Linked DNA regions of Homo sapiens. The protein of the gene in region 1 purifies or fractionates together with the protein of each later gene. This does not show direct contact. Each region holds a gene or a part of one and is shown on either strand. Other genes may lie near its edges.

Region 1 (4,753 bases):
GTTACACAACATCAAAAAATTCCATCTGTTAGTATCACCATGGATCTCATCAGTAAAGTCCCGAGTATGGGAGATCTGTCAAACTTAGATGGTGAATACATATTTTCCAAAATTCAAATTTGTGCTTGAAAGTTTGAAATTTACACATTGGCAAGAAATGTCGATTGTTTTCCTTGAACTGATAGGTTCCCTTCTTGAATTCACAAGAAAGTAAATGCCAGATATCTAAGTCTGAATAATCATAATTTGTGAGTAATTCCTTCAAATAAAAAGTGTCCCATGAAAAAAGCAGGAAGTTCAGCTAGCAGCTCAATCCCACAAGTGCTTTTCCTTGAGACAACTAATGTATTTCAGTATTCAGTAGAAGGATTTTATACATACTTCTTATGTCCTCACATAGAACATTTAAAAAGACATATTCAAGAGTTAAGATGTAATAAATGAGGGCTGAATCAGAAGAAAGAAAAAAGAAAAAAAGATAATATTAACAATGTTGCTGCTTCGTTAAGAACATTTTTATATGAAATGGTTTTTGTTTCCTATCAGTGCATGTTATATAGAATATGGTGTCTACTAGTACAGTTTGGAGCCACTATTTTGATTTATGCTTAAGCACTAGCAGTATTAACCACCATTGTTTCGGTACCATCAGTGCAAATGTCAGCAGAGTGAAATGGCAAATCACAACTTAGTGTTATGAAAATAGTTTCAAAATTGCAGACAGCTGTGAAAAGGCCTCAGGAACCACCCCTGCCCCTCGGGGCCCCACAGACTACTACTGACCCATAGTGACCCAGGATTTAAGAGCTGACATTCTTTGACTCACTTTCATCGGTCCTTCCTTAATGTGCATAGAGCTCTGCCTGGGGAAATACAGATAAGTTCAGATACAGCTACTTTCCTGATTCTTGTGGTTTTTCTTTTTCTTTCTTTCTTTTTTTTTTTTTTTGTAGAGATGGAGTTTTGCCATGTTGCCCAGGCTGGTATTGAACTCCTGGGCTCGAGTGGTCCGCCCACCTCAGCCTCCCAAAGTTCTGGGATTACAGACATGAGCCACTGTGGTTTTCCAGGAAAGAGTTCACAAATAATTGTGAAACAAAAAGAATTAAATCCCTGAGAAGAGGTGCTTCTTAAGAAGAGAAGTTATTTACTGCAGCAATATCTGAAAAAGTTTTCCCTGTGTTCCAGACAATTATATCTCTGAGGCTAAAATAATCCCACATTAAAATAGACAATACATGTAGATGGGTTAGCTGTTCAGCAATTTGGGGGAAATATATATCAATTTAGATTCAAGAAAAAAATACAAATAAATTTTAGAAGTCAACTGAAAAATAAAGCCATAGAAAAGACAGAAGAAAATAGAATTGTATAGCATTTTACAGAATTTTGGAGGTTGGAGGATATAGTATTAGTTTGCTAGGGCTGCCATAGCAAAGTAGTACACACTGGGAGGCTTTTCAACAACAGAAATTTATTTTCTCACAGTCTTGGAGTCTAGAAGTCATAGATCAAGGTGTCAGCAGGGAATAAAACCGATCTTCAGAGGCCTCTCTTCTTGGCTTATAGATCGTCATCTTCTCCGTGTCTTCACGTGGTCCTCCCTCTATGTCTGTCTGTGTCTCATCTTGTCTTTTTATAAGCACACCAGTCATATTATCTCATTTTAAATTAATTACCTCTTTAAAGACCCTATCTCCAACTATAGTTATAGTCTGAGATACTGAAGGCGAGGACTTTAACATGAGTTTTGAGGGGACACAATTCAGCCCATAACAGAAGGAAACTGATCTCAAAAGGAATAGAAGAAACCACAAAGGAAAAAAGCAGATATGGTGTTACATGCCTGTAGTCTCAGCTATTTGAAGGCTGAGGCTCAAGATTGCTTGAGCCCAACAATCCAGCCTGGGCAAAATAGCAAGGCCCCATCTCTAAAAAACAAACAAAAAACTAACTTAAAAAAAATGAAAAGTAAAGATAAACATTTCAATATGTCACAACAATGTTTAAATGAAAACAAAAATATAGGAGAAAAGAGTTAATATCTTAAAAAATAGTTCATACAAATTAATAATGAAGAAATACTATGGTTCTAATAAATAGGTAAAAAAAAAAACACCAAAGACAGACAATGCTGGCAGTGCTTACTTTCCATTTAGCAAGTGATGTCCACTGTTCAATTAATTGTGTAGAAGGAAAGTAAAAGTTTATTTTGAAGCTCAAATTTATTTTAAAACAGTGAAATGAGGCTATGATATAGCATCAAAACAATACAAAAAGTTTGCATAATATGATATTTGGAATTCTTTGATTTTGCATCTAAAAATGCAATTTATTATTTTTAAAGTACATACTATGTTTTGTTTCTAAATGATTAGTAAAGATTTCAACCTACTAATTTTAAGTATTCCTCAAATAATTAATTAGCAGGGTAAGGAATTTTTATTCACAATAAAGAAAATGTCAAGTTAAATTACCACTGTGTGTCCTCTTTTTAAAGATGTTTTAGGGTATCAGAGACATCTTGGTGGTCTTTATAAAACTCAACAGAAGATGGCTGCCTCTCAGATGTGACAAAGACCACTTTAGAGACAAATTTGCAGAATTACCATGCACCTCAGTAATTTATAACCTTATGTTATGGTGCTAAAGCAACCATTATGAGTATAAGTTAAACAACTTATGGCTAAAAATAAAAGCAATTTAAACTGCATTAAAGTTAAAACCATCAACACGCTAGTGGTGGTCAGCTGAGTGACTGAGTCATGAGTAAAAACATTAGTTTCCCCTAACACATGGTATAAATTTAGAAATTCTCAAACTCTTTTTTAAACTGAACAAAGTTATAAATACCCATTTTAGATTTTTTTTTTTTTTTTTTTTTTTTTTTGTGGGGGGTGGTTCACTTTGTCACCCAGGCTGGAGTGCAGTGGCGTGAACCAGCTCACTGCAGCCTCAACTTCCTGGGCTCAAGTTATCCTCTCACCCCAGCCTCCTGAGTAACTGGAACCACAGACACATGCCACCATGCCCGGCTAATTTTTTTTGTATTTTTTGTAGAGACAGTTTCACCATGTTGCCCTGCTGGTCTCGAACTCCTGAACTGAAGCCATCGACCTGCTTCAACGTCCCAAAGTGCTGCGATTACAGGTGTGCACCACTGTGCCCAGCCTGATTTTGGGAGGCTGAGGCAGGAGGATCGCTTGAGGCCAAAAGTTAAAGACTAGCCTGGACAACATAGTGAGACCCGCCTCTAAAAATGTATTTTAAAAACTTTATTTAAAAAATTTAAAAAGACATGGAAAGAAAGATTACCACCTTGGATGATGACATTAACCTCCTAAAACACCTCTATGAGCTCCAGGGACTAGGAACCCCTGATGTAGCATAACCCTGTTTGCCTGAACCATTTATGAAGACCAGAGAAGTTAAATGGTTTGTCCCATACCACAGTCATTAGTGTGGCTTCAGTTCTCTTTAGACATTGTCCATCAGACAATTTATCTTCCCATTTACAAAAGCTGCTTTCACTTGGCTTGCACATTTGAAATATAAATATATTGACATATTGGGTAAGATAGTTATCCTAAATTGTACCAAATTTGCTTTTAATAATCACAACATATCATTTTTGTTTTTATTGTGCATAAACTCTGTAAAGATACTCTGTACCATTTTTCAAAGTTTTCTCATTATTTCAAGTCTAAGAACCCAAACTTTTCAACAGATTGTGACTTCCATAAAGTCATGGGTGCTCTGTAAATTCAATACAGCAGGCACTTACAAAGTACCCAACTTTTCGAACAATAAGTCTAAGAAGCACTTTGAGTGTTGCTTTCTTTTCTTTATCTGTAAATGAGAAAAAAATAAGAATAGCAAAGAGGTAAAAAATGAGAGATGTCCTAAGGAAAAAAGAGTCCTGGGGCTTTGACAATCCTTTAATTAATGTTTTTTTCTATAAAGTTGTTTTTGGTCCTGTTTAAATGCTCCCTTCTCTGAGTTGCCCCAACAACTTCTTTGAGGTTTGTTTTCCCAAAGGTACCTGTTAAAAGTGACTAGGGAAAAGACTTGCTGACCCAGAGCTATCTTTATCCTCAAGTGAAGGACTAATTCTGACAGCAATCCCCTCGACTAATCCTCATCTCAACCGTATGCTACCACATTAATACCTTATGGCTTAGTGTGAGTTCCCTAAAAGCAAAACCTAATAAGATTTGGATGTGGTGACTCATTAAGGGGATGCTCTCTGGAGAAAGGGAAGGAAGGAAACTGGAAAAGGCAGAGGAAGAATCTAAACCAGGATTTCATCTCAGCTTGAGTCTGGCATCACCCTAATCCTTTCAGGAGCTCTGGAGCATGAACTGCACTGAATAGTTGGCCCCATCTTGAGACAAGGGGCCAGCCCTTTGTGCCCCCACCCATCAGTCACTGGCCATGGGGAGGCGGAGGCATCACATCCCGAGCAAGGCTTCTTCTTTTTAGCTGAGGGCAATTCTCCAGGGGAAGTGATTGGCTAGGAACTGCACAGGAGAATCTGGGAGACAGGTGCACTGGTCCAGTAGAGGGCATCTGGGCAGGGCATCAAAAACATCAACCACACTCACTACACCTTGTCATCACACCTTCTTCTGAAACAACACCTTGAAATGATGAATAAGGAAAAAGATGAAATATTAAAACTATACCAGTTTGTACATAGTAAATAAAGAAAAAATGCCTGTTAAGAGCTCTACAGTTGTGAGGGGCATGGACA
Region 2 (4,059 bases), on another chromosome or scaffold:
AAAAAATTACACTGAAAGACTTTATGGTAAGTATTTAAAACTAAATATACCAACCTGTGGTATATTACACATTTTAATATATTCTTCCATAATGCCCACTAAGAAGAAATAAATGGGATAAATGATGAAAAAAAATAAAGCAAATAAACACGCTTTTAGGAATGTTTTCGCATGTGTACATGTCAGGGCACATGAAAATGATTCCTCATTAGAACTCTCTACATCCTAAAAATTACAAAGACCGAGTTTCTACTTCAATTTTTTCTTCTGCTTGAAGTATATCTGGATCAACATGAACAACCGGAGGTCGCAGGATAACTTCAGGCCCTCCACCATAAATAGACTGCAGAAAATTCCATGTTTCTTCAGAAATCTGGCCAGAATCTGCTCCTTAAAATTACGTAGAAGAAATAATGTTTACAAACCTATATATTCATATTGCAAAAGCGTTCATAATGTACCCCCCAGCATGAATCTTCTCGGGATAATTGAGAACTTCTGGAACATGAATCTGCAGACTACCAGCCCATATTGTTATAAGCTGAAACATATGGCTTGTCTTAAAAAGTCAGAGATGCTTTTGCTTTGCTCTTAACAACAGCCTTAAGACCTTTCCTCAGATAAAAAAAAAGTGGCTGCTTTTCATTACTTGCCCTAGTTAATGTATGGATTACATTCTTCAGTTGAATAAAAAAGTACTATAGATGACTAATGATAACATATTTCTAACAGTGACAAATCACTCACAAGTAAAAGCTTAAATACGAGTCAAACTTACCTTGCCTAAGCATCACATTACCACATTTAGTGACTGCAATCTTAGTATTGTCAATAGGACCTGGAGGATCTAAAGGAAAAAATATCAAAATGTATTTTTCAAAGAAATGTAACAAAAAATTGCATAATTTTGTGCTTGACAAAATTGTGACCTATAACTACATTATCAGACTGGTTATTTCTCAGGCAAATTATTATAGTTAATTCTTTTTTTTTTTTTTTGAGATGGAGTCTCGCTCTGTTGCCCAGGCTGGAGTGCAGTGGCACCATCACAGCTCACTGCAACCTCCGCCTTGGGTTCAAGTGATTCTCCTGCCTCAGCCTCCTGAGTAGCTGGGAATACAGGCACACACCACCACGCCCGGCTAATTTTTGCTTTTTTTTTTTTTTTTAGTAGAGATGGGAGTTTCACCATGTTGGTCAGGCTGGTCTCGAACTCCTGACCTCACGATCTACCCACCTCAGCCTCCCAAAGTGCTGGGATTACAGGCGTGAGCCACTACACCTGGCCTATGGTTAATTCTTAATGTCTTCTCCTGAGCTTCTTCGTTTTTAGTTCTTAGTTCCCCCAAAACAGAACCAGGAAAGAAGGTAAGAGAGGCTCGTTCACAACCATCACAGTTTAACAGAAATGTTTTGTTTTTTTTTTTTTTTTTGAGACGGAGTCTCGCTCTGTTGCCAAGGGCTGGAGTGCAGTGGCATCATCTCGGCTCACTGCAAGCTCCGCCTCCCAGGTTCATGCCATTCTCCTGCCTCAGCCTCCCGAGTAGCTGGGACTACAGGCACCCACCACCACGCCCAGCTAATTTTTTGTATTTTTAGTAGAGATGGGGTTTCACCGTGTTAGCCAGGATGGTCTTGATCTCCTGACCTCGTGATCCACCCCCCTCGGCCTCCCAAAGTGCTGGGATGACAGGCATGAGCCACCACGCCCGGCCCAGAAATTATTTTTTAACTCTCCATTTGGGGATTACAAGTCAAAATGTACCACTAATGCTATAAAATAGCAATTCCTTTGTAATTTGAAAGAAATTATACAATTAATTTGCTTCAGATTATCAAAGTAACATTAAGAACAATAAAAGCATTATAAAAGAAACCGTTTAAATACATTCTTTTTAAAATTTAAGGCAAAAGTGAACCGCATGGTCATCATCAAAAGTTGTAAAAGCAACTTAAACAAATTTACAATTAAAAAAACCCAATTAGAAAGTGGACAAAGAACATGAACACTTCTCAAAAGAAGACATTTATGTGGCCAAAAAAACATGAAAAAAAGATCAACATCACTGATCATTAGAGAAACACAAATCAAAACCACAATGAGATACCATGTCACATCAGTCAGAATGCCAGTTATTAAAAAGTCAAGAAACAGGCTGGGCCCAGTGGCTTATGCCTGTAATCCCACCACTTTGGGAGGCCGAGGCAGGTGGCTCACTTGAGATCAGGAGTTTGAGACCAACCTGGCTAACATGGTGAAACCCCATCTCTACTAAAAATAGAAAAATTAGCCAGGCATGACAGCGGCACCTGTAATCCCAGCTACTCAGGACGCTGAGGCAGGACAATCGTCTGAACCCAGGAGGAGGTTGCAATGAGCTGAGATCACGCCACTCCACTCCAGCCTGAGTGACAAAGTGAGCCTCTTTTTCAAAAAAAAGAGAGAGTCAAGAAACAAGAGATGCTGGCGAGGCTGTGGAGAAATGGGAACACTTTTACACTGTTGGTGGGAATGTAAATTAGTTCAACCATTGTGGAAGACAGTGTGGCAATTCCTCAAAGACCTAGAACCAGAAATACCATTTGACCCAGCAATCCCATTACTGGGTATATATCCAAAAGAACACAATTCATTCTATTATAAAGATACATGCACACATATGTTCATGGCAGCACTATTCACAATAGCAAAGATAAGGAATCAACCCAAATGCCCATCTATGATAGACTGGATAAAGAAAATGTGGTAAATATACACTATGGAATACTACGCAGCCATAAAAAGGAAAGAGATCATGTCCTATGCAGGGACATGGATGGAGCTGGAAGCCATTATCCTCAGCAAACTAATGCAAGAACAGAAAACCAAACACTGCATGTTCTCACTTATAAGTGGGGGCTGAACAACAAGAACACAAGGACACAGGGAGGAGAACACACACTAGGGCCTGTTGGTGGGGGTTGAGGGATGAGGGGTGGGAGAACAACAGGAAAAACAGCTAATGCATGCTGGGCTTGATACCTAGGTAATGGGTTGATAGGTGGAGCAAATCGCCATGGCACATGTTTACCTATGTAACAAACCTGCACATCCTGCACATGTATGCTGGAACTTACAAAATAAAAATAAATTTTTTTAAAGGTGTAGAAAAGCCAGATATGGTGGTGTGCACCTATAGTCCCAGCTACTCAGGAGGCTGAAGCAAGAGGATCGCTGGAGCCCAGGAGTTTGAGGCCAGCCTGGACAATACAGAGAGAACTCAGTAATTCAGCACTTTGGGAGGCCAAGGTTGGTGCACTGCTTGAGCCCAGGAGTTCCTGGGCAACACTGTGAGACCATGTCTCTACAAATAATTGTAAAAAATAATTTTTAAATTAGCCAAGTGTGGTAGTACATGCCTGTAGTCCCAACTACTCAGGAGATGGAGGTAGGAGGATCGCATGGGCTGAGAGTTCAGGGCTGCAGTGAGCCATAATCATGCTGCTGTACTTAAACCTGGGCAACAGGGTTAAGACCTTGTCTCTATTAATTTAAAATTTTAAAAAGTAAATACATAAATACAAAAAGCTTTAACTAGGCATATTGTTGCAGCCTTTTTCACATATCAGAATCTTTTTTTTTTTTTTTTTTTTAAAGACAAAGTCTTGCTCTGTCACCCAGGCTGGAGTACAGTGGCATGATCTCAGTTCACTGCAGCCTCCGCCTCGTGGATTCAAGCAATTCTCCTGCCTCAGCCTCCTGAGTAGCTGGGATTACAGGTGACTGCCACCACACCCAGCTAATTTTTGTATTTTTAGTAGAGACAGGGTTTCACTATGTTTCAGGCTGGTCTTGAACTCCTGACGTCAGGTGATCCACCCACGTCAGCCTCCCAAACTTTTGGGATTATGGGCGTGAGCCACCGTGCCTGGCACATATCAGAATATCTTATTTTCATATTATTAAATATTGTCATACAATTTTACTTTAAAAGTCCACTGTATTGAATAAACCATACTTTAAGCAACCTCTTATTCCTTATAAAGATTTCTAAAATTTTTTCAACATTAAGATCACAG
Region 3 (4,876 bases), on another chromosome or scaffold:
CGGCCCCAATCCTGAAGCTATGTAGGGGCCCACCAGGCATCATCTCTTCAAAACACGAGATACTCCTAAGGCTGGACATTCCAAGAGATGTAGGGGCTCTATGTTAGGAAATGGGGACAAAGACAAAATATTTATATTTTTCCTATCACACCACACCTCCCCCCTGCTCCACTGCTATGCTGGCTTCACACTCAAAATCGGCTGTTTATTTGAAATCTCCGAGGAGTAAAGCCAATGGTTCCATAACTGCACGTGTAGATGTGTTTGGAACCTTTTGGAGTGCTGTAGGAATCTAGGTGTGTCACGGATAGGTAGGAAACTAGATCCTACTGTGGATCCACTCCCTTCTTGAAATGCTTTGCTTTCTTGGTTTTCCAGGTATTAAATCTCTATTCTTCATCCTCTCCTTGACTGACAGTATCCTTACTCACACTTCAGCTGCCTCATCTTAGCAGTAATTAATAATCACTCATGGATCCATGAACTAAGGAGCTGGAGATAGCCTCAGAACAGCTCATTCAGAGGTGTATTTCCAGTAAAATTGACCTTTTAGCCCTGATAATCATATACCAAAACCTGCAATCATGTTGTTTTGGTCCATTGTAGACTCTTAACTCATTCCAGAGGAAAGTTTATAATACTTAGAGCCTTATAGTCATAAAAATCAACATAGATATACCTATTTCTTTTTCAGAAATGTATGACATGGAGATCAATAAGAGGTTTTCAATCATAAAGATACTATACCTTGTATTACAATAAAATTCTGTGAGGAAGTAGAATAGAAATGAGTTTCAAAAATAAAAGATAAATAATATAAATTTTTTAATCTAAGAGCTTGTTCTTGTATTTTTTTCAAATGGATAATGTAGACACTCAAATTCCATTGATATATTTAAGAGTGATTTGACTTATATTAAGAGTTGTATTATAAAATATTAATATTTATAATTTAAAAGAAATTACATTCTTTGCAGCTATTTAGGATAAAAAGTTTAAATATCAAATAAATGTATGCCAGGGGTCATTTGCTTTTAAGATTCTTCCAGCAAATTATTAAGCAAAAAGAGCATGCCTTGCTTTTTCATGGTAAAGAGAAGAAGGGAGCGGGGAGAGGGGAAACTTTACTTCATACCATTTGATCCTCATATTTTTTTGCATCTTAAGAAGAGAACAAATGATCCTACCAATATTGAACTATTTTTCTCTCTTTGATTAGATATGGTCCGGCTTGCTTTCACAGATGTTTCGATAAAAAATTTTGAAGAGTTTTTTAACCTCCACAGAACCGCCAAGGTAAAACCAACCATGTGTTGTTTAAAAAAAAAAAAGAAAAGAAATTAAGCTTGACACTAGAAAATAGATTTCTTGGATGAGGATTATTTCAACTTTATTGTATACTTTTAGAACAGCAAATAACATCACTCACTAGTGCTTCTTCTGATGTTACCGGTGATGTCTGGTTAAAAGCAATAAAGGAGGGAGTGCTTAAACGCACAGAACAAGAGATCCACAGTTAGCGGAGAAGATTATCACATCTAAGGGCAATGGCTCCAAATCCAGAAACTCACTGAGGAAACTACATATAAAAATAGAATATTTCTGGCCCGAGTGGGCATGATGAGCCTGTAATCCCAGCACTTTGGGAGGCTGAGGCCGGTAGATGACTTAAAGCCAGGAGTTTGAGACCAGCCTGGCCCACATGGCAAAACCCCATCTCTACTAAAAATACAAAAAAGTAGCTGGACGTGGTGGTGCATGCCTGTAATCCCAGCTACTTGGGAGGCTGACACTTTAGAATTGATTGAGCCCAGGAGGTGGAAGTTGCAGTGAGCCAACATTGCATCACTGCACTCTAGCCTAGGCGATGGAGCGAGACCCCGTCTCAAAAAAAAAAAAAAAAACAAACAAAAAAACTTTCCATCCAGAGTGAGGAAAGAGCCTACAGGAAATGAGCCTGGGGGACAGACTGGGCCAAGAGACCAGACTTAGCCACTCTTAGAAATAGGTGTCCCCGGCACAGATGAGGAGCCTGGCCCCATGATTCACCAGCTGGAGGCCTTGGGATGTGCCACTTCCAGCCTGTGCCCCTGACTCCTCATTCATAAAAGAAGACTGATAAGGCCTTCCTCAGAAGGTTGAGATGGACGTGGAGTAAGATGTTTAGGATGCACCTGCCACTGTGCACTGTGCCTCTCCTCAAGGCCTGGAGGGTCCAGGGGTGAAGTTTCTCCTCCTCAGGTTTTGGCAACCAGTTTCTCTAAACCCCGGGAACATAAAACATAATTTTCTGACTTAAACATGGCTTTCCTGCTCATCCCTGTGGATTATCTGATGGATATGACAATCCTCGCCATCAGATATAGAAGCCCCTAAAAGAGAAAGGAAAGAAGCTGAGTTACGGGGCCTGAAAGCAAGCCTGTGCAGGTCCCCAGGCCCCGGGATGGGGGTCCGGCCCATCTGTGGCTCAAGCCTCCTGGGAAGCTCTGACCCTCAGCCAGGGCTAGAAACCTGCCTTAGATACACCAGGGCGCGGCCCAGAGGGCTGTTCCAGGAAACGTGCTGTTTCACTCACGTTGGGTAACCTGGTATTTACGGACTTCTTACCTACTTTCCTGTGACTCAGGAATTTGTGTCTTGAGGGAAACTGTATTTATTTATTTTTTACTGTAGTCCAAAATTGAAGACATTAGAGCAGAACAAGAGAGAGAAGGTGAGAAGCTGATCCGCCTCCACTTCCAGATGGAACAGATTGTCTACTGCCAGGACCAGGTATACAGGGGTGCATTGCAGAAGGTCAGAGAGAAGGAGCTGGAAGAAGAAAAGAAGAAGAAATCCTGGGATTTTGGGGCTTTCCAGTCCAGCTCGGCAACAGACTCTTCCATGGAGGAGATCTTTCAGCACCTGATGGCCTATCACCAGGTACGTCTTCGCGTGGTTCAGGATGCCAGCTTCCATTCTTTCCTTTTCTTCTGAACGCCTCTCTCTTTAGTCTTGCTCTCTCTGTAGGTGACGTTGGTCAGCTCTGTCGTTTACCTCCTTGTTAGCCTCCTGTATTAGTCCATTTTCATGCTGCTGATAAAGACATACCTGAGACTGGGCAATTTACAAAAGAAAGAGGTTTAACGGACTTACAGTTCCACATGGCTGGGGAGGCCTTCTACCATCACGGCAGAAGGCAATGGGCACTTCTTACCTGGCGGCGGTGGCAAGAGAGAGAATGAGAGCCAAGTGAAAGGGGTTTCCCCTTATCAAACCATCAGATCTCATGAGAGTTACTCACTACCATGAGAACAGTATTGGAGAAACTGCCCCCATGATTCAGTTATCTCCCCCTGAGTCCCTCCCACAACAGGTGGGAATTATGGGAGTACAATTCAAGATGAGATTTGGGTGGGGACACAGAGCCAAACCATATCGCCTTCGTAGAAGCAGCTCAACCTCAGACAGAGAGATGGTGGCTTAGAGCCAGTGACATCTGGTTTTGATGGCTGTCTAGCTCTGGCCAAGTTACTTAACCTCTCTGAGCCTCAGCTTTCTTTGTAAAATGGTGTCTCCTCATAGATTCTAGTGCATATTCCAGGAGACGAGTGTGGATGATGATAATGGATTGCTAATGGAAAAACCAAACTCTGTTAAAATATTTGAAAGAGGTTTATTCTGAGCCAAATATGAGGGACCATGGCTCTGGGAACAGTCTCAGGAGGTCCTGAGGAAGTGTGCCTGAGGCTGTCAGGATGCAGTTTGATTTTATACATTTCAGAGAGGCAGGAATTGTAGGTAAAATCATAAATCAATACATGGGAGGTGTACTTGCCCTCCCTAAAGAGGCAGGACACCTTGAAGGAGGGGGAGCTTACCGGTCATAGGTGGGTTCAGAGATTTTCTGGTTGACGATTGCTTGAAAGAGTTAAACTTTGTCTACAAACTTGACATCAATAGAAAGAAATGCCTGAGTTAAGGCAGTGTTAGAGGCCAAAGGTATGTAGATGAAGACTCTGGGTAGCAGCCTTCAGAGAGAATAAATGGTAAATGTTTCTTTTCAGGCCTTAGAGGCAGCAGGCTCTCAGTTAATCTCTCCTAGATTCAGGGAAGGCCTAGAAGGGGAGAGGTCTGACTGCATTAATGGAGATTCTCTACAGGTGCAAATTCCCCCCCCACAAAACATGGCAGGGCCATTTCAATCTGTTGGTCCTGTTACAGCCGTTTCAAAATATGTCCACAAAATATATTTTTAGGTAAAATATTTGTATTTCCTTTAGGGTCTGCAATCTGTCTTGTGATGCTATACCAGAGTCGGGTTGGAAAGTAAGCCATTTTATACTGAGTTCATGGAAACTCATCCAAGGAGATTTCATGGTTTGTGGGGTGTGTGTGACTTAACCCCTGCCTCACATGACTTTATAATATGGTATCTTACTACTCCAGAGTCTTTTTGGCCAACCTTATGATCTCAATTTCAACCTAAACTCCAAAAGGGCCTGGCTTCTCTTCCTGTTACGGCCAGGAATTCAGATTTTCAGGTTTCTCTGGGGTCCACTTGGCCAAGAGGGGGTCTGTTGAGTTGGCTGGAAGGCATAGGATTTTATTTCTGGTTTACAACAATTTCCTTAGTGCAGCATTGGAATGCAATGGTAGCAGACTAAATGGAAGCTATCGCGTAGACACATGCTTTGGTTGATACTGCACGATTCAGTTAACCTGAAGTACAATCTAATTCATCCTAGGGAAGGAGGCAGTGAACACAGACACAACTCAGGTAGAGCCCTTGGGATGTGTAAACACCTGAGGAGGTAAAGCAAATTGTAATCTCTCGGTTTATCAGATGTCCCCATTGCCTTACTATTTGGATGCTTTAAAGCAGGGCCTCTCAAAC

The links. The genes of interacting proteins can lie anywhere in the genome.
Region 2: the proteins of TRPC3 (region 1) and USP33 purify together in Homo sapiens (affinity purification with mass spectrometry; one large-scale study listed by BioGRID and IntAct). This does not show direct contact.
Region 3: the proteins of TRPC3 (region 1) and MX1 purify together in Homo sapiens (co-immunoprecipitation; one study listed by IntAct). This does not show direct contact.

The regions. Positions count from the first base shown.
Region 1 is NC_000004.12:121,873,027-121,877,779, forward strand, and holds the end of TRPC3 (short transient receptor potential channel 3), read right to left. Parts: 3' UTR 1,455-4,753; downstream 1-1,454. UniProt on the Homo sapiens protein: Forms a receptor-activated non-selective calcium permeant cation channel.
Region 2 is NC_000001.11:77,697,085-77,701,143, forward strand, and holds part of USP33 (ubiquitin carboxyl-terminal hydrolase 33), read right to left. Parts: intron 848-4,059; coding exon 779-847; intron 391-778; coding exon 233-390; 3' UTR 1-232. UniProt on the Homo sapiens protein: Deubiquitinating enzyme involved in various processes such as centrosome duplication, cellular migration and beta-2 adrenergic receptor/ADRB2 recycling.
Region 3 is NC_000021.9:41,449,948-41,454,823, forward strand, and holds part of MX1 (interferon-induced GTP-binding protein Mx1), read left to right. Parts: intron 1-1,219; coding exon 1,220-1,296; intron 1,297-2,673; coding exon 2,674-2,922; intron 2,923-4,876.